Linked DNA regions of Homo sapiens. The protein of the gene in region 2 interacts with the protein of the main gene of each other region in a biochemical or structural test. Each region holds a gene or a part of one and is shown on either strand. Other genes may lie near its edges.

Region 1 (8,155 bases), on a different chromosome or scaffold from region 2:
GGGACAGGGACAATGGAGGAGCCAATCTTAAACCCTTGGCAATGGGAGATGGAGGGAAAATGAGGTCCGTCCTTGCTTTGACTCTCGTTGGGCTCGTACTGTGGTCTTCTCATGGTCCCCAGAGTCTGCCCTATCTGTATGTCTCTCCTGGTTGTCTGTTTCTCACTTGCTCTTTGTCCCCTGGCACTAAAGATACTGGCCTGGGCCAAGCCCCACCCAGATCTGGATGGACCTTGGGTGGAGGAGCTAGCTGTGACCTCTGCTCTTGGGCAGAACTGGGCTGTCTGGGTCCACACAGCGGGCTGGTCGCTGAGCCCTGGGCCTGCCCTGGGTGAGCAGGGCACTGAGGGCTGAGAAGGGGCAGGGGAAGGGGCACCAGGTCTTCAGCAAACACATGGCAAGAACAGGCCAGGGGGCGGGATGTGAATCTTTTGGTCTCTTGGAGATCCTCCTGCACCTTCTACCACTCTAAGCCTCTAGACCCAATCTCTACCCAACTGTGGCTGGCAAGGGGGAGGGCAGCGGAAGAGAGCCGGGCTCCTCTGACAAAGCCCTAATTTTCTGGAACCCAGATGCTCCTCACTCTTGTTCTCATCTTCTTGCTTCCCCCCAACCTCCTGACCACTCCTCAAAGTGTAGGTGATCCACCACTGTCACCAGGGTCAGGGGAAGTCCTCTGGACAGAGAGTATGGGAGTCCTGGGTTCTGGCCCTGGCTCTGCTACCAACTTCTATGTGACCTTTGTGATTCCTTTGCCTTTCTGGGCCTGTCTCTTGGTCAGTCTAGCGAGAATCAGGTGACTGCTACCGGCTCACATCTCCTGGAGTCCCTGGTCTCTTTCAGAGCTGCTCTGGCACTCCCGGGTGGGAGTGGGGGACTGTCTTGTTCCACACATCCCCAGGAGGCCTGGCTGAACCCCAGACCTGAGTCGAGGGTGGGATAATTGCTCCCTGCGGGGGATGTTTTTCCTAGAGGTGTGGGCTGGTCCCAGGGAACCTGGGACTCTGAGGGCCCCTGGGCAGGAAGGAGGCCAAGGTTTCCTTCTGGCCAGAGTGCTCAGCTCCAGCTCTGGGGCAGTGGGGAAGAGGTTGCTCAACGTTGGGGTGGGGCCCTGGCAGGGAAGATGGCGCCGAACTGGGAGAGGGAGGAAAGAGATCAGCTTGGTGACTCTGGGGCAGGGCAGGAGGGGGAGCCCCTTACTGTGTGTCCTCTCCCTAGGAGGATGAAGAAGCCCCCAACTCAAAGGAGGGTGGCGTCAGAAAGTCCCAGGGAAGAGCCCTAGGATAGGATGAGGTCCCGCAGCAGCAGATTTGTCCCGCAGTTCTTCATCCCTCACTCTTCCAAAGACTCTCATCTGAATTCCGTTTTCTTTAAACCTCCCCTGAGTTCTCCATCTGACTGCCTCAGTTTCCCTGAATCTCCAGCCAACCCTTTGGTTCTTTCCAAGCGTTTCCCTCGTATCCTCCTGACCACAGCAGCTGGTGGCATAGTGTGCGTATCTGTGGGCAGGAGTTAGTGAAGGCCTCCTTCCCTCCCTCCAAAGCCCCAGGCCCCACGGTCTGCCACCCGCAAAATTCCAACCACGAGGGGGCGCCTTCCTGCCCGCCGCCCCGTAGGGAGACCCGGCCTAGGCCGCTGGAGTTCCGAGTTCCAGGGTCCTTGTGATGGAAGGGCGGGCGCGGCCCCCACACCTGGTCTTCCAGCCCTATCCAAGGAGGACTGCCAGACAGTCCCGCTCTGAGGTGCAGGAGGCCGGGCCGCCTCGGCTACCCTGAATCCACCCGAAGCTAGAGGGCCCGAGCCCGGGGGGCGGTCGGGTGCTCACCTCCAGAGCTTGCCCAGCGTCTTGCTGAGCTCAGCGTTGTGCAGGTGCGGGTACTGGTCCGCGAGCTTCCTGCGCGCTGCCTGAGCCCACACCATGAAGGCGTTCATGGGCCGCTTGACGTGCGGCTTGCTTTTGCTGGCGCCGTTGACGCGCACGGGCATGGGCACCAGCGTCCAGTCGTAGCCGCTGAGCACCTGGCTGACGGCCTCGCGGATGCACACGGGGAACTTGTCATCGTCCGCCTCGCCGTCCTGCTGCTCCTTCTTGACCTTGCCCAGCTCGCCTGGCCCCGGGCTGGCTCGCAGGCCCGATCCGCCGCCGCCGCCGTCGGGCCCTAGCGAGGGCGCGCTCCCCGGGGACAGGCAGCGGGGCTCCTCCGAGCCCACGGGGCTCAGCTCCACCTCCGATAGGTCCTGCTCCTCCGCCATGTCGCCCCCGGCCGCCGCCGCCGCCGCCTCGGCCGCCTCCCCCGGGCCAGCCGCCGGGGTCCTCGCAAAGAGTCCAACGCCCACCTGGATGGAAGGAGGGCGCGATGGAGCGGCCGCGCGCGCAGCCCCGAGGGCGGCCCGAGACAGGACGTGGGCACAGCCCCGAGGTGGCGGCCCTTCCTGCTCCAGCTAAACCCATCTGGCCCCTGGGGCCCACGCACATGCCAGACTCTAGGTGGGTGCGTCCCGCCTCTGTGTCTTCCCACCACCTGGTCCCAACCGTCTCTTGGTGTGGGTGGCTTTTTTTTTAGCCTCCTTTTTTGGGTGGAGGTTTGTTGATGATAAGGAAGAAAAAAACGGAGCCTTTATTTTGCTCTAATCCCGGCCCCTGGAATTTCCCACCTTTTCTCTCACCTTTCCTTCTTCCCTCAGCCTGCCCCAACGGGGTTTAGAGGAGAGCCAGGTGGGGGGCAAGGGCGGGGTGTCGCCTCTCTCCACCTCACAGCAGGGTCCCAGGCCTGGGCGGGCCAGGGAGGAGCAGGCTGCGCACTCACCTCCTCGGACCTCTCCTCCAGTCTGGGGCTCGTCCTTAGGAAGTGGAAAACCGTGTCCCAAGGTGTGCGGTCCAGCTCGGGGCTGGGAGGTGACGCTGGTGGGCTGGGAGGGAGGGGCGGGGGGCCCTGAGCCTCAGGCCACGGCCTCGTTAGGACGGAGCCTGAATCCTTACCACCAACCACCCTGGCCGGACAGCCCGAGACTGACTGAGCGACTGAGCCTGAGCCGCTGCGGAGGGCTGGGGAAGGAAGGAGGGGGAGAGGGGGGAGGGGAGAGGAGGGAGGGAAGGGCAGAAGGTGGAGCCTCCAGGCTTTCCTTCATCCCCAACACTCAGGGCTCCTCCACCCGGAGCCCAGGCCCCCCCACCCAGCTCCCTGCCCTACTGCCCAGGCCCATCTTGCTGAGGCTTATCTTGGGCTTAGTCTGGGAGGTGGAGGGGAGGTTAGGCCGAGGAAGGAAGAGATGTAGGCTGGAGGGTCAGAACCTGTTGGATGGAAGAAAATTGGGCCCAACCAGGACTCCTAACGTCTGCCTCAGGTGGCAGGATGGGCACTTGGCAGGGGACTAGGGAGAGACGTGAAGGCGGTGAGGGTCCTGGGGGCCCGTGAGGGTGGCTGGCCCTAGCTGCTTCGTCTGCGAAATCCTGTTGAGTGCCTAGTGTGTGCCAGGCACTGATGCCCAGCTCCTCACCCTGCCTCCTACCTTTTCCCAGGCAGCCCTTTCTGCCCCATCCTGCACAGTAAGAGAGACTTCTCAGGGATCCCTCTGAGAAGTGCAGAGCCCCAGCTTGACCCCTGGTCCCTTCTCTGCAGACACCCAGCACACGCGCGTTCTGGTCTGGTTCAAGGTGGAAACACAAGACTAAAGCTGCCAGGAGGCCAAGGTGGGACAGGTTGGGGGCCCTCTCTCAGTAGGTCTTAGAGGCATTTTGGGTTGCTACCTACTGGGACCCAGCTCCTTCCACACTGGGCTCACCCTGTCTTGGGAGAGGGTAGGGGAGTCCTAGTCCTGATTGTCACGAAGTCCTCTACTCCCCCACCCCAACAAGGGGTGGGGACTTGCCCTGCCTCTTCCCTCCTCTGCCCACCTCTCCCTCCCTCCCCTTTTCTTTCCTGCCCATCCTCCGTTGACACCTTTTTCTCTCTCTTTCCTTGGCCTCTCCTCCAAAGGTCGCAGTGCTGTTCTCTTAACTGAGGGCAGCCCCGCCGGGGTGTTGAGGCCGAGGTGGGGTGTATGTGGGTTATGTAATGGAGCTGGGGTCGCATTGGCAACCATGTGACGTTCTGAGCTCCTCAACAGCAGGGCAAAGCCCCAAGACCACCCCAAGGGGTCCTGTCTGGAGTGGGCTGCAAAGGGTCTGGGGAGGCAAGGCCTCATGCTTGGGAAAGTCCAAAGGGGTGTAGGGGGTGGGAAATGGGACACAATGAGGTAGTCACACGAGGCAGAGGCATGTTGGGGGTGGGGGGAGCAGACACTGGAACACACACACACACACACACACACACACACACACATGCTCACACACACAACCAGCCAGACAATCGGGCCAGTGTGTCTGGGGCCTCGGAGCCCAGTGAATTAGGAGTTTGATAAGGGTTTTCTCTTTCTCTCGCTTGCTGGCCTTGGACAATCTCCCCCCAGTTTTCCTCGACGCCACCCCCGGCGCTGCCAACCCTCCTCCCCCCGCCTCCCTTCTCTTCCCTGTGCCCAGACTCTTGTTCGGGGCCTTGAAACAGTGAGCTGTCTTTGTTCGAAATACAGGTGAACGGCAATCATGTGATTAACACACACACACATAAAAAGCTTTTTAACAGCGCCCGCTCGGCCTCAGAACCGCCCGGAGAGGAGCCGCCCTGGATGGACAGAGGGACGAGGGACGAGCATCTGCCGTCGTGTCCCGGCTGCCCTGCAGTCGCCTCCAACACCCGCTGCTGCCCGCCCGCTGCCTGCCTGCCTGGCATCTCTCTCTCCCGGTGGGTCCCCACTCATCCTTCCACCCCTCAGTTCCTCCTCTTTGAGGAAAGGACCTCCCCGCTCTCTGCTGTGTCTGTGACTGGCCTGAGACCCGCCTGGGGCAGGAGGGGTGGTTGTGGAAGGAAAGAGCCCAGAGTTAGGAGGTGGAATGTGGGGTCCCACAGCTGCCCCCTCTCTAACTCCCTGCTTCCTCCTTTGCCCTCCTTGGTCCAGCTGTGCCAGGATGGGGGTGGGGGTAGCAGTGGGCACGCTCTGTCTGCAGGAAGCCACGCTAGACAGAAGGGGCCACTCCCTCTCTCTCTCCCTTGTCCCCGCACAGACACTGCCTTCCTCTCAGGGCTGTGCTGGGCTTTTTGCTGAGCAGTGTTGGGTGAGGCAGGTGGGCCTGCAGGGCGGGTGGGAAGGGCTGTCAGATGACCAGTGCTGTGTGTGTGTGGTTGGGGCCCCTGCTGCGAACACATCCCTGCCCACCATGCTGGCAACTGGGATCCCCTCCATCCCATCCCAGGCCCTGGGAACCCAGTGCTCTCCAGCAGGCAAGGGTGAAGGACCCATAGTCATTCCTGAAGAGCAGGGAGCTTGGAGAGGGGAGGGATCCTGGCTGAAGACACCTGGGCCTCTGCCCCAGCAGGACAACAGGAGGGCCAGTGTCACCTTCTCCTCCTTTCCCTGCTGGGGGTGGCAGGGGTCCCTTTACCCCCTCATTCTTGACCCTTCTCCAGGGATGCTTGTGACCTCCTTACCCCACCCCCCATCACCTCTCTGTCCTGAAGTGAGGGTTTGTCACCGTCCATGGCAAGGTGTGGTGTCTGGTAGGCTCTATGACCTGCCTTCTCTCAGGGTGTTTATTCTGCAGCAGAGAGGGGTCTGCGGTCTGAGTGTAATGGTGGAAATCCAGGCTTCCTTCCATGGCCCAAGGAGGCCTTTCCGGAGCAACAGGGTTTTCCTGGGACTCAGCCTGGCTTTTGTTAAGGCAGGTCCCGGATTTACTCAGAAGATGGGCCCCAGAGAGGAGGAGAGGAAAGGAATACCTGTCAGTCAAACGTGAAGCCCACTGATGACACTGCCTGGCAGAGCTGCCTCCGGTCAGCAGTGACCCTTCACCCCCCAGCTCCCAAGTCCTCTTCCTGAGGGAGCTGGTCCGGCTTTATGGAAGGCTCCGCCTGTGTTCCCCCACTGGGTCCCTGGTCCCTCACCTGTCACGTGGGGCGATGGTCACCCTCCCTCCCTGCCTGCCCTGAAGGATACACTGAGATGAAGGTCAGGAAATCTGCTGGCTGCAGAACCAGGGGCCATGCAGGAGTGAGGGATGGTCTGGTCAAGTTGAGGCTCTGCCCCAGCCTCAGTTTCCCCACACAGGCATGAGACTGTCTTCCTGACTTTCAGAGGACAGGGCTGAGATGGGATGAGGGAACACAGGGAAAGCGTTTAGCACCTCTGAGTGCTGTGTGGATGCGACCTGGGGGGTCCTGGCCTCCACTCTTTAATTCTATCTGGACTGTGTGCCCTCCTACCTCCAGTTTCCCTGCGGGGGCCTTTCACAGGGCCTGGCTTGCGGATACGGGGTTTGGCGTAGGGCAGTGCTTCTCAAATGGGAAGGCGCACTGGGATTCTTCAGGTTGGGGTGGGGCCTGAGGTTCTGCATTTCTAATCAGTTGCCTAGGACTGGCTCTAATTCTTGTTGAATTTACAATCACTTGTGGAGTTAAGAAAAACATACTGGGCCTTGGTTGGGTGTGGTGGCTCACACCTGTAATCCCAGCACTTTGGGAGGCCAAGGTGGGCAGATCATGAGGTCGAGAGATTGAGACCATCCTGGCCAACATGGTGAAACCTTGTCTCTACTAAAAAAAAAAAAAAAAAAAAATTAGCTGGGCATGGTGGCAGGCGCCTGTAATCCCAGCTACTTGGGAGGCTGAGGCAGGAGAATCACTTGAACCCGGGAGGTGGAGGTTGCAGTGAGCTGAGATTGCACCATTGCACTCCAGCCTGGGCAAAAAGAGCGAAACTCTGTCTCAAAAAAAAAAAAAAAAAGAAAAAAAGAAAAACATACTGAGCCAGGCGTGGTGACTCATTCCTGTAAGCCCAGCACTTTGGGAGGCCGAGGCGGGCAGATCACCTGAGGGCAGGAGTTCGAGACCAGCCTGGCCAACATGGTGAAACCCCATGTCTACTAAAAATACAAAAATTAACTGGGCATGGTGGCACGCACCTGTAATCCCAGCTACGTGGGAGCCTGAGGCAGGAGAATCACTTGAACTCAAGAGGCAGAGGTTGCAGTGAGCCGAGATCGCACCACTGCACTGCAGCCTGGGTGACAGAGTAAGACTCTGTCTCATAAAAACAAACAACAACAACAACAAAAAAACATACTGGAGCCTAGATCCCACCCCAGACTGGTTGATTCTGAATTTCTGGGGCTGAGGTACAAGCATAAAGTTCCCTGGGAGGTCTTCACAGAGTCTCTGGATCCCTGAGGCTGTGAATGACCCCCTTCCAGAGCCAAAATCACCAGGGATGGAGGAGGGGTCTTGGGTACTGGACCCACCAGCCAGGCAGGTTATACTGGGGTATCCGGAGAGCTTTGGGGTGTGGCAGGGGAGGGCCTATGCACTGGGAAGGTGGAGGGCCGACGGGCACAGGTTAGTGGTCGAGGGCAGCATAGTGACAGACAGAAGCTACCCTGTGGGTCTTCAGCCGAGTCTGAGTGCGCTGGGGTGGCTGTGGGAGCTCCCCTGAGCATTTTCTAGGCCACCTCCACCTTTGGATAAGGCTGTGTCATCCTCAGTCTCGGATGTAGTGGAAAGTGACTTGAAGTCAAGAAATCCTGCCACTAGTACCCAAGGGGCCTTAGGCAGATCACGCTATTAACCTCTCAGGACTCGGCTTTTGCATATGTACGATGTTGATAATCTTATGCACCCTTGATATCCCCAAGTGATGAGAGAATTAAATAAGAATACACACACACATCTCCCCTACCTAGCATAGTGACTGCTCAATAAATGTGAGTCAGAGGAAATCATTTAGCTATTAGGCCAGCACTGGGAGGTGTGGAGGATGCTCACCTCAGGTCAAGTGCACAAGTATTAACCGAGCAGCCACCACGGCCTCACAGTCAGGAGTTTATCATTTGCCTTTTGAATCCTAATGTCAGACCAGGTGGCATTCCTGCTTGGGATGACAAGCTCCTCTGTCATGGGTGGGCCTCCTCTGCCATGCCCCTTAACAGCGAAGGCGACACTCTAGGGCCTCCCCAGGTGCCGGCTCAGCTGTGAGGGCTCCTGTCATCGGACTTCATCCTCCCAACAACCCTCTGAGTAGATGCTATTATTCTCATTTTAGGGAGGAAACTGAGGCACAAAGCGATTCA
Region 2 (7,199 bases):
TGAGGTGACAAGATCGCTTAATTCCAGGAGTTCGAAGCTGCAGTGAGCTGTGATCATGCCACTGCACTCCAGCCTTGGCGATAGAGTAAGACCCTGTCTCAAAAAAAAAAAAAAAATTAAAAATAATAGTTGCATTTTAGAATGGGAAGTAACTTGATCAAGGTTGCCCAAACTTAGTAAGTGAATAAGATTTAAGCTCCAGCAAAACTGGATTTTAACTCTGGCTTTTTCACTTATGAGTCAAGTGACATAGAAATAGTCTCAACTCTTCTGAAGATCAGTTTCTTAATCTGTAATACAGGGACTGATAGTAATAATGCCTGCCCTACTTGTGTCATTATCTATTAAGGACAATCAGTGAAAGCACTTTACAAATCCTAAAGTCACACACATTTAAATTATTTTTATCATTGGCCTCCACACTTCTCTTATACCATTAACCAAATGCTGAAATGTCAGAGAAATTACTGTCACTTGGTTGACTTTCTCCAAAGGAACTACATTACCCAAGAGATTCAGTCTGAGGGCAGGCTACGGATTTTTTTTTTTTTTTTTTTAATGACTGGTATTTTGAAAAACAAGTCCAGCAAACAGGCTGCTTCTCTCTTGTTTGATGTGGTCAGAATTCCTTCTTGGTCATGTGACCCCCTAACATTTCTTGATGCTTATTTTAAAAACACAAACAAACCTGTTTGGTTTTTGCTTTCTTTCTTTTTCAAATTAACCTTGGACACTATGGAGTTGACCGGAAGGGCAGGGTGGGAGATAGCATCTTACCTGGGTGCTGGTGGGAGAGCTATCGTCTGAAAAGCTCTGGGAAGTGAAAGATGGAAGAAGGAAAGTTGAGTTACTCAGACATCTGGTGCATCCTAACCCTAAAGCACCTCTCGGGGTTCCTGATGCTCTCAAGCACGCCTGGGTTCAGAATAAGAGGGGCCAGTCCTTTCTTCATAATAACTTTAAAAATTATTTTGAGGCTGGGCACAGTGGCTCACACCTGTAATCCCAGCACTTTGGGAGGCTGAGGTGGGCACATAACCTGAGGTCAGGAGTTCAAGACCAGCCTGGTCAACATAGTGAAATCCCGTCTCTACTAAAAATACAAAAATCAGCCAGGCGTGGTGGTAGGTGCCTGTGGTTCCATCCACTCGGGAGGCTGAGGCAGGAGAATTGCTTGAACCCACAAGGCGGAGGTTGCAGTGAGCAGAGATCATGCCACTGCACTCCAGCCTGGGCAACAGAGCTGGACTCCACCTCAAAAAAAGAAAAAAATTATTTTGAAACTATAAGTAGTAAACTAATGTATCATGGAAAAAGTGTAGGTGTGTTTAAAACTGATCGCGCCCTTATAATTACAATTAGAGTTAATGGGAAAACATTGGAAACATTTCTGATAACATCAGAAGCAAAATAAGCACATCTATTACAGCTGTTATTGTTTAATACTGTAAGTTCTAAGCAATATAATAGGACATGTAGACATATCAGTACTAGCAAGGAAAAGACCCTGTTACCATCAGATGCTTGTATTACAATTACATACTTGGAAAAAAATCAATGAGGAAAAGACACTAGTAGGATTCAGTGAAGTGGTCATGTACAAAGTAAATACACCAAAATCAGTAGCTTTCTCATACTAATCTGTCATTAAAATATAATGGTGATTACAATATAGGATCCTTGACCAAAAAAGAAAAAAAATTTTGTAATGTGTACTGGAGATGTGGAAAAAGTAGAGAAACCTTGTAATGGCTAATCTCCCCCAACCCTTAGTAATTTCTGAAGCTGGCTAGTAACTCAGACAGTCAACAATAGATGCACCATGAGGGCAGGGATCACTGTCTGTTTTACTTACTGCTCTATCCCCAGCACCTAGAATAGTGTCTGTCCCACAGTAGACACTTAATAATTGTGTTTTTTTCTTTTTTTGTAGAGATGATTTCACCATGTTGCCCAGGCTGGTCTTGAACTCCTGAGCTCAGGCAGTCCTCCTGTCTTGGCTTCCCAAAGTGCTGGGATTACAGGGGTGAAGCACCATGCCCAGCCAATAATTGTTATTGAGTGAATGAAGGAATGAATTTGAGAACTAGTCATGCCAAGGAATCGCTAAGTCACATCGTGTTGGAAACTGCTCTTTGTGGTCCAAGTCCACCCATGTTTCTCTTGTTTTTTTCTCTCCATCAGATCTCAGTCTCAGGAGGAGGTTTGCCCCCAGTCAGCACCTTGACGAATATCCACAGCCTCTCCCACCATAATCCCCAGCAATCTCAAAACCTCATCATGACACCCCTCTCTGGAGTCATGGCAATTGCACAAAGTAAGTTCTATTCTTGGTTGGAAAACTTGGGGGCAGGGAGAAGAAGAATGGGAAGCAAATTAATGTGGTGAAAAATAACTGTAGGTCTCCTTCAAACTCACCCACGACTAGTAGATTTGGTTTAACTTCTTTAGTTTCTCATCTGTCTCCTTAAATCCAATATTTGGATTGTTTAGCCTAAAACAAGAGAAAATTGTGGAATGGATTTGGATCCTGGTCACAGTTTAGCAGCTGTGCATCCTGGGTCAAATCATTGAACCTTCAGGAGATTCAATGTCCTCATCTATAAAATAGGTTGTTAAAGTGATCAACTGACAGTGAATATGAACATGCTTATAAATCTCTAAAGCATGAATATGTATAACATCGTAGCTTACACTTTGTCTTGAGTTCATTCCTATCACTAAGTAGGTGGTAGATTTTTCAGGAGGTTCTTTCTGTTTGGTGATGATGAAGTAAGAATGACAGGTTTCCTTCTAAATGGGGAGTTTTGTGTGGTATATGAAATCTCCTTGGCCAGCAGTGAAAATACACCAAGGGAGGATCCAGAGGGAAACTGCCATTGTATCTGAGAGCTTTGAAAACTTTAAGGAGAAAAAGCTTGCTTTGGCACATCACACGCCTGAAGACACGGAGATGGATCAGGTCCCTCCAGCTCCAGGAGGCTCATATTCAACAGCAAGCCTGTGCCCTCCCATACATGGGCCATCTTGAGGCATGAGAAGGCTGAAGGGAACTGTGGTTGTGGATATCTCTTTGAGAGTTTTAATGTTGATGAGTATTCAGCATATTTCCAGCTTCACTATGACAGCTCAGGTGTCGTTGTTTCTCAAAACCATCCTTGTGACCCTTGGATGTATTGCTGGATGTCTTGGGAGAGATCTAAGGGTAACACATTGGTCATCTTTCTTTCAACCTTGTATTGCTCCATTGTCCTCTTACCTTCCTTGTATCTAGGGCTCATGTTGGCCACCTCTTTGTTTTGTTTCTGCCTTTTTCTTTCTTCCCTCTTCTCTCCCTAAATCAGCTTTAGCTAGGGTCGGAACTTGGATTCTCACTTCTGAAGAGAATGACTTACACATCCTTTGAGGTCAGAACAGGGCTAAGCCCATTGGAGGCACACAAATTTATTGAATATGTGTGGCTCTCACTCTATCCTTAGCTGCTTGGAAATTGACACACAGTGCATTGATTTTGGCAGAAGGAAAATGGGAATGGGGAAGCATTTAGAGAACTCACAATATAAATGATCATTTTAAATGTATTGCCTTTTGACTGGGCCCTCTGGTATATGGAATATGGTAATTATACTAATACCAGAGTTTGGAATGAGATAAGATACCTAAAACCAGCTTGTTTGCCATTTAGAAGATTTGATTAAAAGGCCCGTGGGGAAGATATTCCACTTATTTCTGCAACCAAAATAATAAACAAACTGTCCCACTTAACTTCTTTCTTTCCATTCTAAGCTTTCACTGCCATACAGTTATATATATATATATACTATCTGAATTAAAATTTTCCCTGGGGCTAGTCTGCATCTTTCCATTTTGTTCTTTCTAATTTCCTCTACTCATATTTCTCTATCATTTCACGATGCTCCTTAATCTCCTATTCAGATGGGCTGCACCAGAGTGCACACTGACCTCAGAAGGATGGCTGTGTGTGTACATATCTGTGTACACTTGGGGTAGACAGAGCATGAGAAATGGTGAGAATCACCAGAAGACTGCTGAGACACAGAGGTCCTACACTATGGAGTGTTAGGATGAGAAACTGGTTGCAGGCATCTTCATTTAACTGACTGATGTGTTGAGTACCATGGGCCCTGCCTCAGAATTGCGGAAGCCTGTGGAGAAGGTGGTAACAAATTATTTGGCAGGGCCAATTCCTTATTCTCTACTCATTCTCACCTCTTCATCCTATTCTCTTTCTCATCTCTTCCCTGGACTGGATAGCATACTTCCCAAGCAAGAACCAGTGCCCAGAAACAGAAACAGATGAAAAGGTCAAGACTTACCCACTGAGGGAGCTGGAATGACATCAGAGGCTCTCAATCCTGGAATTGAGGCACATCAGGATCACAGACTGCATTGAAAATAAGATTCCTGGGCCCCACCTCTGAAGGTTCTGACTCATTAGGTCTTGGGTGGGGCCCAGGAATGTATATTTGTTAAAGAGCTCCCCCAGATGATTTCTGAAGCACATGCAGGTTTCAGAACTATGCCTTCAAATGTCATCCACTCTAGACAGGATCATTTGCTTTTTTGGGCAGCAGTTTCTCAAAAAGAGCAGCAGCAGTGCTCTCAAAGATTTCTCAAAAACGGCACATTCATGGAGCTTTCTGGGAGACTGAGACCATAAGCAGGAGGTAGGAAAGGGAAACACGGTCATCGGTCATCAGGGTATCTGGTGAGATGCTGGCTTGAGGAGACGCTGAGCCCCCTGGGGAACTGGAGACAGTGCTGTTCTGAGGGTGATCAGAGGGTGGCACCCCCAGCCCCCACCCAGGAGAGCCAGAAGCAGGATTCATCCCCTGTCCTTTCTGCTCAGGGGTCTCGCCTTTTAGGTTTCTGATAACAGTATCAGCTAAAGCTCTGAGTAGGCAATTGTTGAGGACTCCGTGTTATCTCCATTGATGACTTCCCTCAAACCTGCCTATGAAACCGTCTCCATTTCAGGAAAGCCTCTCTAGGTGTCCCTTCCACATCCACCTAAAACAGACCTTTTTCTGGATTCCTTCTTCATCCCATTCTTCCCCCAACTTCCCAGAAAGCAAGAACACAGGAACACAATCGACCCCAGGAAGCAGGTCCAGGTGTCTTCTCTCCTGATCGTCCTGTCCCCACTCCGATCCTACCTTAGCTGTCTTCCTCCGTGTCGCTCTCAGGGAGGAGATAGAGCATGGGTACCAGGGGATCCAATCCTCAGAGTGCTGGCCCGGGTTCTAAAGAGGCCTCAGGATACACAGTTCCAAGTTACAGAGGCCCTGACATCTCCAGAACAGAAAGATGGGAAGACCCACTATAAATGCCAAGAGTCAACCTTTAATGTACTACTTCCTCTTTCTAAAACCTGGTCCTTTTAGTGCCACAAGCCCTATGCTGCCACATAAGATATGCCCGCCTCGCAGACTGGCTGAGTTCCAGTGTTTTCTCCCCTCTCTGTTACAGTCAAGGGAGTTGGCACCTGATTTCTCTGGGGGTCTTTGTACAGTCTACTAAATAAGGGTCTCCCAACCTCATACTCCCGGGACTATGGAAGTTGTTTTTAGTCAAAATTTGGGTCCCTGCACACTCCTGCCCTCTACTGGACAGACCGATCTGGGCAATAACCTGTGCCTCAGTGTGGACATCTTTAACTCTGCCCTGCGGGCACCAGGGCAAGCCTCTCTCACAGCCTGGCATGGATGGAGTGGGCAGGTAGAGCCAGCTTTTCCAAAGCCCTGGTAACCTCAAGAGAGCTAAGTTTGGGAGGTCACAGGATGACTCTGGGAGACTCTCAGGCTTTAATCAGATCTGTTTAATGCCCATCTCCAACCCACAACTCATTGTGGAACTTGAGCAAGTAAATTAATATCTCCAAGTCTCCGTTTCTTTACACTTGCCTCCCATGGAATCTCCTATGTAACAGGCTCAGCCCGGTGACTGGGACATTGAGCGGGGGCTCAAATGATGGCATCCATCCACCTCTCCTTATCCCAGGAGCTGTCTGTGATCTTTTCCTCTTGCTCCCACAGGCCTCAACACCTCCCAAGCACAGAGTGTCCCTGTCATCAACAGTGTGGCCGGCAGCCTGGCAGCCCTGCAGCCCGTCCAGTTCTCCCAGCAGCTGCACAGCCCTCACCAGCAGCCCCTCATGCAGCAGAGCCCAGGCAGCCACATGGCCCAGCAGCCCTTCATGGCAGCTGTGACTCAGCTGCAGAACTCACACAGTAAGGACACGGGCATGTGGAGGGAGGGAGCACTCAGGACCCTCAGTGGCCAACCACTTTCCCTCTCTGGGTCTGAACTTTCTCGGAAGTTTATTGGCTTGGTCACTTTTCCCTGCCTATGATCAACCGACTAAGACAATTTCTCAAGCATAACTCTTGAGTGTTGCTGTACCTTTTCTAGTCCTCTTCTCTACCCCTGAGATTCCCAGGGAAGGGTTTGAAGAGGACAGTGTAGGCCTACAGATGAAGGGGAATTGGAGCCAGACAGCATGTGGAACACACACCGCCAATTTCCCATTCCAACACCTCTGGAAAAGATCGCGTCCATAAACCACCAGCACCTTTTCCCAGTGAACTTCAACTTAGCCTTTGCAATCTAAACTTCCAAGCAGCCATTATCAAATGATCACAATTGGCATCTAATTTGCATCCTGTTTGCCTTCCCTAAAAGAGAAGAATCTTCTAGAGTCCCGTGTCCTCCAATTTATACACCCCAAACATCTCTAATCAAGAACCATGAACACAAGTGAAAAATACCAGTGGCATGCCATCCTGGGCATTAGAGTTTCTTCCTCCATGCCACCCCTGCATCTCTGCACACAGACTGTTTCTCATATCCAATTTCTATACCTACCCCAAGCCTACCTTTCGACCACTTATTTCCCATCCAATCCCATCCTCTGTTTCTCTGCCTTTCATCCTGAGTCCCAGGCTTCCAATCCTCTGGCCAGGTCTGGCTATAGCCCCTGACACAGGAGTTTGGGGAGGAATCGTGGCTTCTCTGCTTCAGAAACCCCAAGGAAGTGTTCAGTATAAAGCACTAGTCTTAGATCAGACAGACCTGGATTTAAATCCTGGCTGTGATACTTACCAGCTGTGTAGCCTAATGCAAGTTACTTAGCCACTCTAAGTCCAATCTCTACATCCATAAAATGGAAATAGTATGCA
Region 3 (7,199 bases), on a different chromosome or scaffold from region 2:
TTTCTCTTGTCTCTTGAACCACCCACAACATCAGGAGATGCTGAGCTGAGAGTGCTCAGAGTCCAAATGAGGCCTCTGATGAGAACCAGCTGCAGGCCGGGGAGGTCGTGCCATCTTAGTATCTCTGATGAACGGCACTAGACTTCCAAAGGTGTCTTGGTATCTCTGAGTCCATCTGCTGTGATGGTTCATCCCTGACAAGTTGCCCTAATCTCCCATGACATCACAATTGACTTCAAGGCAATAGCATGGAGTGAGTTTTAAGAAACCAGAGCAGATTAGTACATTGCAGGCAAAGAGCCTTGGGATGGGTTTGCAGAGGCCCCAGGTCTCTGGAGGAAGGAGGTCAAAGGCCTCTGTCCACCCTGAAAGGCCAGAGCTGTGGGGGTGGTGGGAGGGAAGGTCCTCAAAGAGACAGGAAGCCCTGCCCACTCCTGCCATGGACCAAAGCCAAACCCAGCTCCAGCTGGCTCACCTAAAGGGCCCTTATGAATCCCCTCTGCTTCCTCACCACCACAATCCCCTTATTTTATACTGTGTTCAATGAACAAAAAACCAGTTTCTCCATTATTGATGAGATCTGTATAATATGTGTGTGGGCCCAGAAAAGATCTAGAAGGAGATACATAAAATTGTTGTTAATTTTTTTTCTCATCAAGCCCAGAGCTGTCAACAAGAGCCGTTTTTGCACAGTAACACCCTGAGTTGATCAAAATTCTAGTCAAAGGCCAAGGAACTTGATGTTTTGTGCGTTCACACCTCTGAGGTTATCATGTTGGGTTTGGCCAAATCCCAAATTCAGAGCCAGGGCCTGACCCCACGACCATGTGGGTGCATCTGGGAGTGAGAAGCCAGAGGTAGGGCTGCAGGAATAAAAGTGTCCACCTTGGCTTTGCGAGGGGAGCATGGGGAATGTGTTGTTCTGGGCTCTACGCTGGAAAGTCCCCGGGCTGCCCAAGCGCATGGCATGTAGGGCGAGAGCCGCTGCCGCCAGGCCAAGCTAGGCCTTTCCAGGCGTGGCTGCTAAATGCGGGACCTGACTTCGGCCTCCACCATGCAGAGCTCCTGCTGCCACCGTGGGCAGTGGCCCTGCAGTGGTTGTGGTGAAGGGGGTGGGGGCAGCTATATTGAAGTGGGTGGAGGGAGCTATATTGCTGAGACGGAGCCTCCCTGAATCTGGCATGTGTCCTGCCTCTTCTTTTAGCACTCACTGGGCACTTGCAGAAACTCCAGGAGGCCCTGCCCTAGAGGAGCCCACAGTCTGCGAGGCGAACAGAACACAATTAACAGACAGATGTATGAAGTGTGCAGAGGCCAGTGCTGGGCTCTCACCGACGGCCTTTGAGGCAGGGGCTGCTGAGAGGTCCATGTGCACCCTGATGTGCAAAACTAAGCGGCAGCCCCACGTGTCCAATACAGACCAAGCTCCCAGCCACCCCTCAGCACCCCAGCCTCCACCCAGGGAAGGAGGCCACCACCATGGTAACAACCAGGTTCTTGGCTGCTTCTGAGCCTACCATGGAGACAGGCAGGCTCTCAGGAACCATGGCTGGATGAACACTTCCATGAAGCCGGCGAGTGCTAACGGCCGGGGAGGTGTTCAGCATTTACTCTCAGTGTGGAGATCTGGGACGCTTCTCAGAGGTGGCGGTGCATGAGTAGGGCTCTGAGGGATGGGCAGGTGGGACGCCATGAGAAGGGCACCTCAGGCAGAGGGCGTGGCCCAAACAAAGGCCTGGAGAGGGGACCATGCGGGGCCATGCTGCTTACCGTTCTGCTTGGCTGTCTCGTAGTCTTCCTTGCACACCAGCCGCCCGTCCTCCATGAGGTAGAATTCGTCCCCCGTGGCCAGCTGCCGGTTGCAGATGATGCAAGCAAAGCAGTGCAGGTGGTAGACAAAGTCCTGGGCCTTGCGGACCACCTGGGTTGGGGGGATACCCTGCTGGCAGGCCGTGCATTTTGTGCCGAAGCGCCTGTCAGGGCAGCAGGAAAGGATTAGGGCACACAGGGAGCAAGGGATCTGGCTTCCCCCAACTTCCTGGAGCAGCCTCCCTCCTACCCCACCACTCCGGGACTCCATGAGCCTCACCCCCCAGTCACCCAGAGCTTACCGTCTGGTCCTCTCTGCCTCCATCTAGCTTCATTGCTTTGTGCCTGGGACTCTTCAACCACCAAAGAAGGGACTGATGAGAACTAGAGTCTCCCTCAGGTACCTTTTCCAAAGCTGATGCCCCCGGATTCCAGCTGCCCGATTAACACCCATCAATTCACAGGGGGAGCAGGTGGACTTTCTAAGTCCCTCAAAGCAGGCTGTCTCCCCCTCCACCTCCCAGCTTCCTCACCCTTATGGTTGATCCCAGAGGACATCCTCACAGGGAACTGTGTGTGCCACAGGCTGTGTGTAGAAAGCACCCAGCAACACCTTTTCACACACTCCCAGGGAGGAGGCCCTGCCTGGCCAGGGGACAGCACGCTGCAGAGAAAATGCACTTTGTCAGCAGAGCAAGGCTGTCCTGACAGCTGTTCTCTCTCCTTTGCCTCCATTTCTCCCCTCACCTCCATTCTGCACACACAAAGCCCTCCAAGCCTACCTCCATCCCCTTCCTATGCACGCACACAGCCTGGGGCATGGTGGTTTGGGAAGGGCCCAGGAAGCTGCACTTTTCAGCCCCTACAGCATTCGGGACAAGGAGTCTGCAGATTACAGTTTGGAAAATGCTGCTTCAGACCTCTCCTTGGTCAGCACCTTTCCAGAACAACACCGAGGCAAAAGGAAGCTACCTGCTGCCACCAAGGCAGCTTCTACCAAGCAAGCCACCCCCTGCCAAGGCCGGGAAGGAAGGAGAAATTGACACTTAAAAGTATCGTCCAGTGGGGTTGTTTCCACTCCCTTTCCCCATTCTGGTCATAGAGATCAACAGAGGCACACCGATGGTCATAGGAGACGAGGGAAATTTGGGGGCCGACAGGGACAGTGAAGGAGGGTGCGTGGCTGCAGGTGAGCCTTCCCCGCTTCAGGAGGGAGGCGGGAGGCATTGGGAAAGCAAGGGCAGAGTTTAAAACAGCAATCAACCTAATTATTCATGACATTTCACACAGCAGAACTTTATCTTCTTCAGGATGAAAGACTTCGCCTAATGGATCTGGGGAAGGTTTGATTTTAATGGTCCTTTTAACTAATGCTTATAGGCAGCCTGATTTCCCCTGAAAGGACAGTACATATTTCATCCACATTAATACCAAATAAATTAATTATGGTCATGGCTATCATGATGAATACCAGATTAATGCAGAATGATAGGTCTGTTATGCAGTAATGATACCTGCTGAGGGGGTTATGGGGGCCCGGAATAGGCATGGCCAGCAGCAGCCTCAGACGCCCCCCACCAGGGACACAGCATCCCAGAGAAAAGTGGGGGTTCTCTAAGTCTGCATGGGTAATCCTGAAAGACCCAGAGTGTACTTCAGGGAACACTCTTCTGAGATGGGTATAAGAAGGGTGTTGGGGTGTGAGGGGCTGAGAGGTGGTGGCTTGGGAGGACCCCAGGCTTCTGAATTCCTGGAATGCCTCTTGGTTTTCAGAGAGATGGGGCCCATTTAGAGCAGGAGTTCTCTGCGTGAGGGTCAGCATAGGCCTGTAAACCACCTGCTAAGTTGTTCAAAATTGTGCCTCAGGAGGGGACCTGGGTTTTCATCAGATTCTTAAAGGGATTCAGGACCCAGGAAAGTAGAGTTAATATTTGTTGAATAAATAAATCAGCAGATAAAGCACCATACTTGTAGAGGATGTGCACGGAGATGGCCGAACCTGAGGATGTAGAACAAAGCACACAGTCGGCTCTGGATGGTTCTAGACCTCCCAGAACACAGGTGAGAACCAGGTCCTCCACAACTGCTGTGTAACCACATCACCTGGATCAAAGAGGAAGGCTGGCAGGCACCCACCTCTACTGTGTGTGTGTGTGTGTGTGTGTGTGTGTGTGTGTTATGTGTGTGTGTATAACAGAGAAAGGAAGCCTACACATGTGTTACTAGAGAGTGTTTTCAAAAGGCCTGTATATTTAATATCCAATCCCAGCCAATTTGCAAAGCAGGTACTGAAATGAAACAAGGCACCAGGTGTGGTGGCTCACGCCTGTAATCCCAGCACTTTGGGAGGCTGAGGCAGGAGGATCACTTGAGCCCAGCCTGGGCAATATGGTGAATCCCTGCCTCTACAAAAAATGCAAAAAATTAGCCGGGTGTAGTGGTGTGCACCTGTAGTCCCAGCTACCTGGGAGGCTGAGATGGGAGGATCACCTGAGCCCAGGGAGGTTGAGGCTACAGTGAGCCAAGATCACGCCACTGCACTCCAGCCTGGGCAACAGAGCGAGACCCTGTCTCTAAATTAATTAATTAAAATGAAACAAGGCTTTCATCATGCTTGTTGCGAACCCTCCCAACAAACCACGCAAATCTGGAGAATGTGTCCTAACCAGAGATCCAAGGAGAGGAGGGCTGAGAGGAGACCCCGGAACAGAGGGAAGACCCTTCAGCAGCCTCCTCCACAGGGGCCACACTCTCTCCCACTAAAAAGCAGGCAGGGGGCTTTCAGTCACCGGAGGCCCAGCTGACACCAGCACACCAGAGACATGAAAGATAACGGGGGTATAAATTTAATCTACATACCGACAGTGATTCATGCATGAGGGTGGCAAGTGCACAAGAAAAATGAAAAATAAGTGGACTTCCCCACCAGCGTTTTTTAGCAATTGAAGCAATTTTCCTGATTGTGGGATTTATACTGAAGGGAAGTGGAAGTGGCTCCTCATTACCTTTTCCCCTGGAGCACAGCCAGCGGGACCCTTGCCGAGGGAGCCGCATGCAGCACCTCCTTGGCCCACAAGGCTCCCCCGGCCCAGCCCAGCCCTGCAGATCACCCTCCACCCCATCTCCAGTCAGAGCCAGTGTATCTAGAATACAGGGCATCCTACAGGGGTGTGTCTGTGATGGAGACACTGTCCCCATTCCCAGATCTTAGAATAGCCAGAGTCACAGGTGAGAAGGCCAAAGCCTGGCAGGTCACATGACTTGCCCTGCGACAGGCAATAATGAGACACACGGTCATGCCTAGAATTCCCTGGCCCCACACGAGGTAAAACTGTGAACCCGGCTGCTACACAGAGAACCAGAAGTCTAACCAACTGGACCAAATATGAAGGACGCTGGGGTAAAGAGGGAAAGGCTGGACTCCAGCCAAGGAAGAGGGCTCCCAAGGGCTTTTCCAAGCAGCACCCCTTAACACCGATCACCGGGCACCCATGCAGGGGCACCAAGGGCACTGGCCTCACCCTTCAGAAAGATAAGCCTGCTGCCCAGTCCTGCTAGCCAGGCCTCTGGGGACAACCAGTCCCCCCAGGAGAGCAGCTGGAGCTGATCCAAAACCACAGAGAAAATGCAAGGAAGACTTGCTAATGGCTCATATTATTTTCATCCTCTAACCAACACCACTGGAAATTGTCTTATCCCTGCCCAGCACATAGTAGGCAAGCCACAAAGACCCAATGAATGAATGAATGAATGAACGAATGAGCAAACGAATGAGTGAACGAACGAACTGCTTCTTAAAACATTTGCCTGAGTAGTCAGGGGAGGCTTGGCTCTCCATAATGGCAGCTCTTTTCTTTTCTTTTTTTTTTTTTTTCAAGTTTGGTATTAACTTTGTTCTATTTTTGGTCTAACTTTAAGTACCTAAAGATTTATTTCCACAGGCCTCAGAAAATGGGTAGAAATCACAGGACAATCCCTCTTCCCACCAAAAAAAGTTGCATACTTTGGTAAGTGTTTATCCTAGAGGGAAAAAGCTGAAATTTACATTAGCAGTGCTGTGCAAGATTCTGACATAAATCACGACCTCAAACCAGCCTGCAGTGGAGGTTCTAGTCTTCTGTTCAGGCACTTGGACAGAAGCCATAGCTGATGAGCATGACAGGGAAAAGGAGGCAGTAAAGACAGGTGACAGGCACCTTGTAGGGAAGGAGGATTCAGGAATGCCAGGCTCCTTGGAATGGTGTGCTGTTTTTCCTTTTTTTTTTTTTTTTTTTCCTTTCAAAGTCATCTCTGTAGGAAGGTGCTGGGCAGCGATCCCAGAGAAAGAAAGGTCCAAGACTCCTTTAACTGTCCTGGATGAAGGGCAGTGCTACAGCAGCTAGTACCGGAGACTCTCCTATCTCATGGTTGAGGCAGACCCAGGATAGAATAGAGAATAAAAGGAATGCTTATAGGAAACCATTTTGCATGGAATGCTAGATGGCCAAGCCTCAGCCTTTGGTCCAGTGCAACCCTTGCCTCACTTGTCAACAGTGAAAAATTAGTTTGGTTAGAGGAACCATCTGGAAACACACCAGCTTCTGCTAGCTTCATGTTCATTGCTAGAAAAAGATTAACCAGTGTGAACATTCTGATCTGTTAATTCCTGGGATTGTTTTCTTCCCGAAGGACTGTTTGTTGGTAGGATAACCCCCAAAAGCTCAAAGCTAAAATGCATCATCAGTCCTGGTTGGCAGTTCCTTAAGAATGGACTGGCGGCGTGAGCGAGCTGATATGGACAAGCTGCCCCTTCCTGCAGAACATCAACTGACCTACTATCTCACCCCAAATCTCTGCCTGAGGTATATTTCAGTGAAGGCAGTTAGTTGTGCTTCTCAGAGCAGAGAAGCAGTTTTAAGCTCTTTTCTTTAGGGGTGAGGGGATCTCACTCGGTTGCCCAGGCTGGAGTGCAGTGCCACAATCATAGCTCACTGCACTCGAACTCTCAGTCTTCCCACCTCGGCCTCCTGAGCAGCTAGGATCACAGGCACATGCCACCATGCCCAGCTCATTTTTTAAGACATGTTTTGTAGTGATTGGGTCCTACTATGTTGCCGAGGCTGGCCTTGAATTCCTGGTCTCAAGTGATCCTCCCACCTTGGCCCCCAAAGCACTGGAATTACAGGTGTGAGCCATCCCCTTTGCCTCTGCTGTCATTAGCTTCCCCTCTGCTGGCTCCTTCCATCCATGTACAGGCATGCTATGATCCCTGCCTGCCTCCCTTCTCTACCGCCCACTCCCCGCACCCTTCAGGGCAGCGCCCCACTCATCCAGAGCTGTGCTGCAGCCCAGCGGTCAGCTCCCCTCTCCCCGGCCTCCCGAGCCTCCCGACACACCTGCTCGCCGCCTCC
Region 4 (8,180 bases), on a different chromosome or scaffold from region 2:
TGGGCTGGACCACAGGGGCCTAGCTGAGGGGAGGGCATTCCTGCCTGGTGAGCTGCTCTCCTCTCCCGTGGTAGGAAAGTTTTCCAGCCTTGGGGGTCTGACCTCACCCTGGCCACTCCCTGGGTTCCAGAAACTTCCTTCCTGAGGGGAAGGGGCAGGTGTGGAGAGTAGCAAAAACTAGGCTGAAGTGAGTAGAATTTATAATATTTAAGGCAAAGCCTGAGTCACTGGTGCTTTATTTGGCCACCTAGTTGGCTGTCTGCTAGCTGGGTGGCCTTGCTCTCTACTTACCTTCCCTAGAATCCAGTTTCCTCATCTGCAAGATGGGTTGCCAAAAGGGTCTAGCTCATTTTTTCTAACTTAAAAAAAAAAAAAAAAAAAACTATGATTACTAGAGAAAAAAATTGAGCTGTGTACGTCAATCCTTTTATCTCCCTCTGTCACCTTCCTTTTTGTGTCCCCAGGAAGTTTTTTTTCCACCCATTTGTAAGTACCAGGGTCTCCTTCCAGAAGCCCAGGCAACTGCTGCCAAAGGCTGTGGGGTGGGCAAAGAGCCCAAGGGACAAGTGCCCAGGACACATCCCTACCCAAACCAACTGGACAAATGCCACCAGTGGTTTCTTCCAAACTGCCCTCGGCAGCCCAACCAGTGGCTCTTTTCCTTTCACCTGCCAGGACCTATATTTCTATTTCTGAGTTTTCAAAGCCTAGGGAGGTGGAGAACCTGGAATAATTAATGATTGATTTTCAGGCACTGCCACCAGGAGGCCCCAGGGCAGGCTGTCGGCCATTTCCTGAGTGCAGGGACAGGGTTGAAATCCCACGTGGCTTCGGCAGGATTGGGCAAGTCTGTGAGGGGAGAGGGTGGAGCGAAAACTGCCAGTGCCCTGAACACTTCTGCCCTCTGCAAAATGATGAAGTCGCTGCTGGAAGTTCTGCTGGGGTGCTGGCCTTCTGCCATTGACTCTCCCCTCTCTCTGGGTCAACGAATGTTAATTGCTGCCCTCACAGACACCCCTGCCCCACTGCTACCCTTGCACCCACGCCTGCACCCACAGGCACGGGCTCACTGGCCCTTTCCTCTCCAAGGCTCCTTTGGGAAAGGATTAAAGGAACCGACTTCCACAGCAAAACTTTAGGGACATTTTAACTTTGCCCTCTTTGGATGTATTCCTCTGCCTTTGTTGTCTAATAATAATTAACTTTTGTACAGAGGTGTAGTTTTCAAAGGGCCTTCACATTCATAATTTTATTCGTCCTCACAACAAAGCTACGAGGTGGGTCTGACCCTCCCCAGCCCCCCGTCTATATCCACATCATGCAGAAGGGGAAACTGAGGTTCGGGCAGAAGAAATCATCCCATTCTACACAATTAGGGCTGGAACACTCACCTCTGATGCAAAGTAGAGAGCTGCTGTTTTCTTCCTGAAGGGATGTACTTTAGTCCCAACAATGGTTCGTTACGTAGGGGAAGTGGCATGGTGGCAAGTAAGCCAGGAGGATTGTTGGGAGCAGTGGTCTTCCCTCGAGGCTGGTCTCTGGGCATTGTGCCCAGAGAAACCAGGGTACATAGGAGTAAGAGGAAGAGCTCATGGACCTACTGGAGTTCAAGGGTCTCAGTCACCTGAGCCAGCAGGTAGAATGACCCAAGTGTGCAAACAATCACCCACCCAATAGTCAGTTGAAACACGGCAGCTTATAAAAGACCCCCAAACCATCCCACTCCCACACTCTAATCAGCTAGGATGACCAATTCATCCTGATTTGCCCGGGAAAGTCCCAGTTTTAACTCGCATCTAGAAAACACTGTTGGTTTTCGTCCAGGGCAAACCAGGGCACTTTATTACCCTACCACCAGCCCAGTGCATTACAGCTGAGTCCAGAAAAGAAAGAACATCTTTTGAAGGCTCAGCAGATCAGCATAGAATTAAACAAATTGTGGGATATTATGCAAATTCAAAAACCACTGTAGTTAGGCAATTACCTAGGATTGTTGGAATGTTAAACCTGAAAGAATGTTCATTTCCACAAAGAAACGCTCAGATCTGCGGCCAGATCTCTTGCATTTTCAAAGGCAAGGCAGAGTTAGTCTCTCGTCTCTACTTCTGTATTTTGATATTGGCAATGAATTACATTTTCTCAAAAAAACACTGAGTTTAAAAAAATTATAACTAGTTGCCAGTTGATAATATTGCCACAAAAGCCTTATGGGCCTCAAGCCTGAGAAGAAAAGTTGGCAAATGAGGTATTCATTTTAAAAAGTGAGTTCTAAGGCCTGGCCAGGCACAGTGGCTCATGCCTGTGATCCCAGCACTTTGGGAGGCTGAGGCAGGCGGATCACTTGAGGTCTGGAGTTCGAGACCAGCCTGGCCAATGTGGTGAAACCCCGTCTCTACCAAAATATAAAAAATTAGTCAGGCATGATGATGCATACCTGTAGCCCCAGCTAGTCGGGAGGCTGAGGCAGGAGAATCACTTGAACCCAGGAGGTGGAGGTTGTAGTGAGCCGAGATCATGCCACCGCACTCCAGCCTGGGTGACAGAGTGAGACTAAGTCTAGAAGAAAAAAAAAAGAGTTCTAAAAGTCCCATTGAAAGTCTATTAGTCACAGTGCAAATTTATTTTAAAATTTCAAATATCATCATAGGAAGGCATATGATTTTTATTCTTAACTAAAAGCATCATGGATTTTAAGTTTGAAAAAATACTGTGATAATAGGTGATTTTAAAAATATATGTATTTCAAACCTTTCGTTTTGCAGAGGAGGAGACTGATGCCAAAGAGACAGAGTTAAAGCACCAGTTAATGACATTTCCTTGGCCTTGGTCTCAGAGAATTAGGAAGTACCAAGGAACCCAGGCCTGATTTCTGATTCTAATTAGAAGCAGGGTCAGTCCAGGAGGCCTGTGTTTATCTCTGCAGCAGAAGTTCACTGCATTCTCACTTCTTGCTCGTCCTAGATCTTCTCTGCTGAGTCTTCTGGTCACCTGCTATGTCACCTGCAGTCTGGAGAAGAGGTACTGTCAAGGTGTGGGGTGTGTTTTTCCCTGAGGAGTAACCTTGAACAGTGCACATTGTTTTTACCTTGAAATGAAATTTTAAAGATAAATTTATACATGGGACAGGAATGTTCTGATAACTTGCTGGATTTGTCCTCTAAGAAATTTTGCCCAAAAAGGGGATAGGAAAGGGAGAGGGTTCATTGCTTGGGCAGAAAAGATGTGCACAGGCAAGAATGATTGCATGAGAGTCAATGGTTATTGGTACGTATCAGAACCTTAGATTGGGTAGAATCTCTAAGGTTGTCAGAGCTGTTTGAAATGAGGGCGTATTAGATTCACCCTGGAGCATTGCCTCCCTGGTGGGAGGGAATCCTGGGTGGACAAAGAGAGTTTCTGCTGTGGCTGCCACACTCCACACCTCCCCTGCAGCAGGACACAATCCAGGGCAGCAAACTGGCCCATGGGGTCCGGAGGACCTATGCCAAGATCCATTTCCATCCCAACACCCTTGGATTGTCTCTCTCTGGGAGGGACTGCCAGAGAAGTTAGGGATCTGGAGCTTTGAAAACCACAGAGATATTTAAAATTACAATTTTAGAGAAAGATTTAAAATGATGAAGCACCAACTATTTTTGTTTACAGCCCCTCTTTGCAAATGTGGAGGAAACATGTAGGGATACACATCTTCTTCTCTCTTTTTTCACAAGATGATTCATTTCTCCTAAATTGAGAAATGAGAAAGACTGGGTGGAAGGAGGTTGTGGATTGACATGAAAGAGAAAACTTTTTTAATTCAGAAAAATAGTTCATGTGTTTTCACACACGTGTACATATGTGCATACACACACACACACACACACACACACACACATCCAATCCCCCTGAATATCCCAGTTTCCCCTGCACCTTCCTTGCCCCCCTCCCACTGGCTTCTTAGCCTCCTGTCCCAGAACAACCCCACCAGGCCTGCAGAGCCATCACTGAAAAGGGCATGGCTGTCCTCTAGACTGTAATCCTGAGTCCAGAGGTCTGGCCAAAGATTGGAGGAGCATCCAGGCCTTGACCCCCAGGCCTGCCAGTGTTCCAGGACATTTGCTCACTCATACCCACTCACAATCTTACGTGTACCCCGGTTCCCCGACTGAGAGAACTATGAGGAAGGAGGGGGCAGCTTTTGCCATCACTAAGGTAAAGAGGTGCCAGGCAGCTCTGCTCGGTCCCAGGGCTCACCAACCCTGCCATCATTCCCACCAGTGGACCCCTTCTTAACCACACCCAGGCCCCCATATTGCTGAGGCTATTGATTCCTACAGACCAGGCCAGAGGTCAGCTCAGTCCTGTTCCTTTCTAAGGCCTTTCCACACAGAGATGAAGTCTAGGCCCTCAATGCCCTTCCCCTGAACTCTTCTTCCAAGTTCAAAATCCTCAAGGAGCAAGAAAGAGGGCAGGTGGCTGCGTGTGTGTTCCAGAGGAGAGAGGCGAGGAGTTGCTGTGGAATGGGTTATGTGACAATTTTGTTAGCCTGACAATGCAAGGGTGTGAACGCTATCTGTGTAGAACAGAGGGAATGGCTTCAGGTGCTGCTCAGGATTCTTCCCTGGAAGAGGTCATAGCTGTGGTGAGAAGGTAATAGCATCTTGCCTACAGCCCCGAAAGCAGGCTCTACCTAAAGAATCAGGCATAAAACAGAAGTTCCCTCCTTCCTTTTACAAAAGAAAAGGCTGCTTCCTGGTGAGCAAACCAGGGGAGACAGGGGGCAAGGAGGGCATCCTACAGAGACCATCCCTCTCACTTCTGGTGGTCAGTGACCCAGGAGGACCCAGAGAACCTCATCCTCAGGCTCCTAGGCCTCTGTTCCCCACTCCTCCAATATTTCCAGGCCTGCTGAGTTAGGGCTCAGCTGCCTCCCTCTTCCCTCCGCTGGAAACAGAAGCTCCCAGCGAATGTTTCTAACTCCTGAGTCCACTCAGCCATGTCCCCCTTGCAAAATCCTCCCCTTCCCGCACCCCCCTGCACCCAGCCAGCCAATCCGCGGCCTACGAGCCTCGCCAGACCCATCTCCCAGGGCCTCAGCGGGATAAAACCGGTCGGTGATGCCGGGTGGATGGGAACAAACTTCAGAAGGAGGAGAGACACCGGGCCCAGGGCACCCTCGCGGGCGGACCCAAGCAGTGAGGGCCTGCAGCCGGCCGGCCAGGTATGTCACCCAGGGGTTAGCTGGAAGCTGGCTAGCAGTGAGGACGGGGGATGGAAGAAAGGAGAGGGTCCCAGGATGCCTGGCAGCCTTTTCCCTCCCAAGTTAAACGGGATAAGACTGGGACAGCGGAGGGAGTGGGCACGGAGGTTGGAGTCTGGAGCTTCTTCAGCGCACTCCCAATCCTTGATCCTCCCGGGAAGCCTGTTAGCTAGGCTAGGCTGAGGTTGGCCCTACTTCGCCTAAAAATCCTCCTACTCCTGGCAGACGATGCAGGTGTAAAGGATGAGGCCTGGGGAGGGGGCCTGAGGATGCAGGCATCGAATCTCATCGCATCTCATGCCCTTCTCCTGGGTTTGTGCAGGGCAGCGGCAGGCGCGGCCCGGACCTACGGGAGGAAGCCCCGAGCCCTCGGCGGGCTGCGAGCGACTCCCCGGCGATGCCTCACAACTCCATCAGATCTGGTAAGAACGCGGTGTGGTCAGGATCCCCGAGCCCCCGCGCCGCTGAGCGTCCGTGCGTGCGCTCGGGTGGTTGGATCTCGAGAGCGTCAGCACGGGATTCGCGGGACCCACCCGCGTGGGGACCCAGCTGGGGCGCCTGGGGCCTGGCCCTCCGCTGGAGCCGCCTCGCTGTTCTCGGGCACTGGGGTTCCACCCGGCCAGCTGAGCCGCCCTTGCCCGGTTTCGAGGGACCACATGGATCGGTGAGGGGATCTCTGTGGAGTTAGAGGGGGTTTCCTTTGAGCTCCATTCCCAGCCTTGCATGGCGCATTAGTGTGGACATTCTTCGTGCTCTGTCCCTGGGCTGCACCGGTGCTGGACTTGCCGTTTCCCCGTCCCCGACCTCTAAGTCCTCTTCCTCGGGTGCGCGCAGTCCTTCCCAGTGACTCCCCTGGCTGGACTGTGAGCTCCCCGCATCTCTCAAGCCAACGGCAATGGAGCCGGTGGTCCCGGGCCCGGGAGCCGGCAGCGCACTCAGGTGCTCTCCGACTCCTCCTGGCCCAGCACCGGGCAGGCCGGGCGCCGCGCGCGGGGCGTCCGGCTGGTGAGGACTAAGCCGCTCGCGGAGTCAAAACCCCCTCCCCACCTGCGCCCGGAAGCAGGGCCTTCAAACACACTCGAGCTCCCAGGCCGCGATGCCTGTTTTCCCCCTTCCCGGCCAGGGCTGGGCAGGGTCTTTGCTGGGAAGGAGCTCCAGGGTCAGGGCTGGTGGGCGCAGCCGTCCCGGCGCGCAGCGAGTGCGGACAGCGGTGGAGGCGCAGCGCGGCCCGCAGTGATGGATGGAGCCCGGCCGGCCGCAGAGAAGGCGATTTATGGGGCCAGGGCGCATCGCTATCGATTTGGGCCGGCGAAGTGAGAGGAAATCAATATTTCAGAATGAATTCTCCGCGAATATGATGTCCCGCTCTGCAAACGGGACATTTGTTATAATAAGGAGGGTCGGATCGGGCGCGCAGCGAGGCTGAGATCTCTATTTAGCCAAGCGCACTGCGGGGGCCCGGGCTCTGCGGCGCAGTCTCCAGTCCCAGGGCCATGGCCCAACTAGGAGGGGAGCGGGAACCCCCTGGGGCGCCGGAAGATTTCTCACTCGGGTTCTCTCTAGAGCTGCAGACGAATGCTCCCTCCCGGCCCCCATTCCCCTCAGAGACCTGGGCCAGAATCGTCCGGCTGCCCCCAGAAGGCGCGGGGTCCCTTCAAGGTCCTCAGGGGAGAGACCTCGCAGCCATTCCCCGGCGCGGCGGGGTTGGGGAGCCCTGGGACCGAGCAGAGCTCCCTGGCACCTCTTTACGGTCCGCGTCCTGGAACCACGAGCGCTCCTAGGCCACTATCTAAGGTCAGGATCAGGTTTTAGTCCCTTAATCTTTAGCCAAACCGTGGTACGATACCAGACATCGCCAGGACCATCCCTGAGGCCTAATGTGCAGTGCCCGGTGCCCATGCCAAGCTGGTGCAATGGCACTTCTGCGCCAAGCTGGTGCAATGGCACTTCTGCTCGGCTCTGGAGGTCCATCTTTCCTCCTAACCTTCCCCTGACCCTTCCGGCGGTGGCAGGAGGAGTGAGTGCTCTCGGAAATCAAATTCACTGTGGCCGGGCTGGACCCTTACTCTCTGCCGCTGCCCAAGAAATGAGACGATGTCCCCGTCCCTCAGATGAGCTTTTTTTTTTTTTCGCGGCTACTTATTTTCATTCTAGAAGTACTCGTTAGAATAGATGGAAATAGAGTATGGAAAGAATAAATAAAGGCACAATTTATTTTTACTGTAGTTTTAATCAGGAACAGTCCCAGATGATGAGATGCGCGCTTTCCCACTAGCTTGGATGCAAATCGCGCTTGGGTTTTGGGAGGGAGCCCTCTGCCCCTGGACCTACCAGGTAATTTTTTTCCCCTTTCTTCTTTTCGGGAAGACAGAGGGGCTTCTTCTACCCTCTTTCCAAAACAAATAGACAAAGTGGCGAGGGAGGGAAGATGAGACTTTCTTCTCATAGTTTAATTTAAACGCTAATAAAACAAGAAAATGGCCTATAACCGCATAGACTGCTGAAGGCGCTCCCTGTTTCTTTTCTGAACCCTCCCTCGGCAAACCTGAGGGAGAGGCCGTCTGTCTTTCTGATCAGCTTACCTGACACTGTTGTCTATAACCGGAGCTAAACTCATAAGCGGACCCCTCTGGTTTTTACAAGCCCATTATCTCTCGGGTTTTAGCAGGTTCCCCCTTTTCCCCAGGCACCTCTGTTCCTGAGACCGGCCGTGCTTAGGGAGCTCCCCTTGAGTTTTCTGTGAGCAGAGCCCGGGACGCAGGCGGCCACACGGCTTTCCGCGGGAGCGAGGCCGAGCGCACCCTTCCCAATAACCGGGGACGCTCGAGAAAACCTCCCCGCGCGGCCTCCGCCGCCCAGCCTGCCACGGGGTCGCCTCGTCGTTGGCTGGTCTTGCCTTGCAGAGAGTCTTAACGTTGTCTTTCCTACAGCTTTATTCTGC

Evidence for each region.
Region 1: the proteins of HNF1B (region 2) and SOX10 form a complex in vitro, tested with the Homo sapiens proteins (one study listed by BioGRID).
Region 3: the proteins of HNF1B (region 2) and LHX4 form a complex in vitro, tested with the Homo sapiens proteins (one study listed by BioGRID).
Region 4: the proteins of HNF1B (region 2) and PAX8 form a complex in vitro, tested with the Homo sapiens proteins (one study listed by BioGRID).

What each region holds. Positions count from the first base shown.
Region 1 is NC_000022.11:37,981,532-37,989,686, forward strand, and holds the start of SOX10 (transcription factor SOX-10), read right to left. Parts: upstream 3,025-8,155; 5' UTR 2,808-3,024; intron 2,338-2,807; 5' UTR 2,254-2,337; coding exon 1,826-2,253; intron 1-1,825. Other genes in the region: POLR2F (DNA-directed RNA polymerases I, II, and III subunit RPABC2), read left to right, coding at 4,623-4,781. UniProt on the Homo sapiens protein: Transcription factor that plays a central role in developing and mature glia.
Region 2 is NC_000017.11:37,700,035-37,707,233, reverse strand, and holds part of HNF1B (hepatocyte nuclear factor 1-beta), read left to right. Parts: exon of another isoform or gene 1-2,184; coding exon 2,185-2,317; exon of another isoform or gene 2,318-2,494; intron 2,495-4,337; exon of another isoform or gene 4,338-4,409; intron 4,410-6,056; coding exon 6,057-6,251; intron 6,252-7,199. UniProt on the Homo sapiens protein: Transcription factor that binds to the inverted palindrome 5'-GTTAATNATTAAC-3'. Binds to the FPC element in the cAMP regulatory unit of the PLAU gene. Transcriptional activity is increased by coactivator PCBD1.
Region 3 is NC_000001.11:180,261,166-180,268,364, reverse strand, and holds part of LHX4 (LIM/homeobox protein Lhx4), read right to left. Parts: intron 2,163-7,199; exon of another isoform or gene 2,135-2,162; coding exon of another isoform or gene 2,112-2,134; intron 1,974-2,111; coding exon 1,771-1,973; intron 1-1,770. UniProt on the Homo sapiens protein: May play a critical role in the development of respiratory control mechanisms and in the normal growth and maturation of the lung. Binds preferentially to methylated DNA.
Region 4 is NC_000002.12:113,275,851-113,284,030, reverse strand, and holds the start of PAX8 (paired box protein Pax-8), read left to right. Parts: upstream 1-5,109; 5' UTR 5,110-5,200; intron 5,201-5,561; 5' UTR 5,562-5,636; coding exon 5,637-5,661; intron 5,662-8,180. UniProt on the Homo sapiens protein: Transcription factor for the thyroid-specific expression of the genes exclusively expressed in the thyroid cell type, maintaining the functional differentiation of such cells.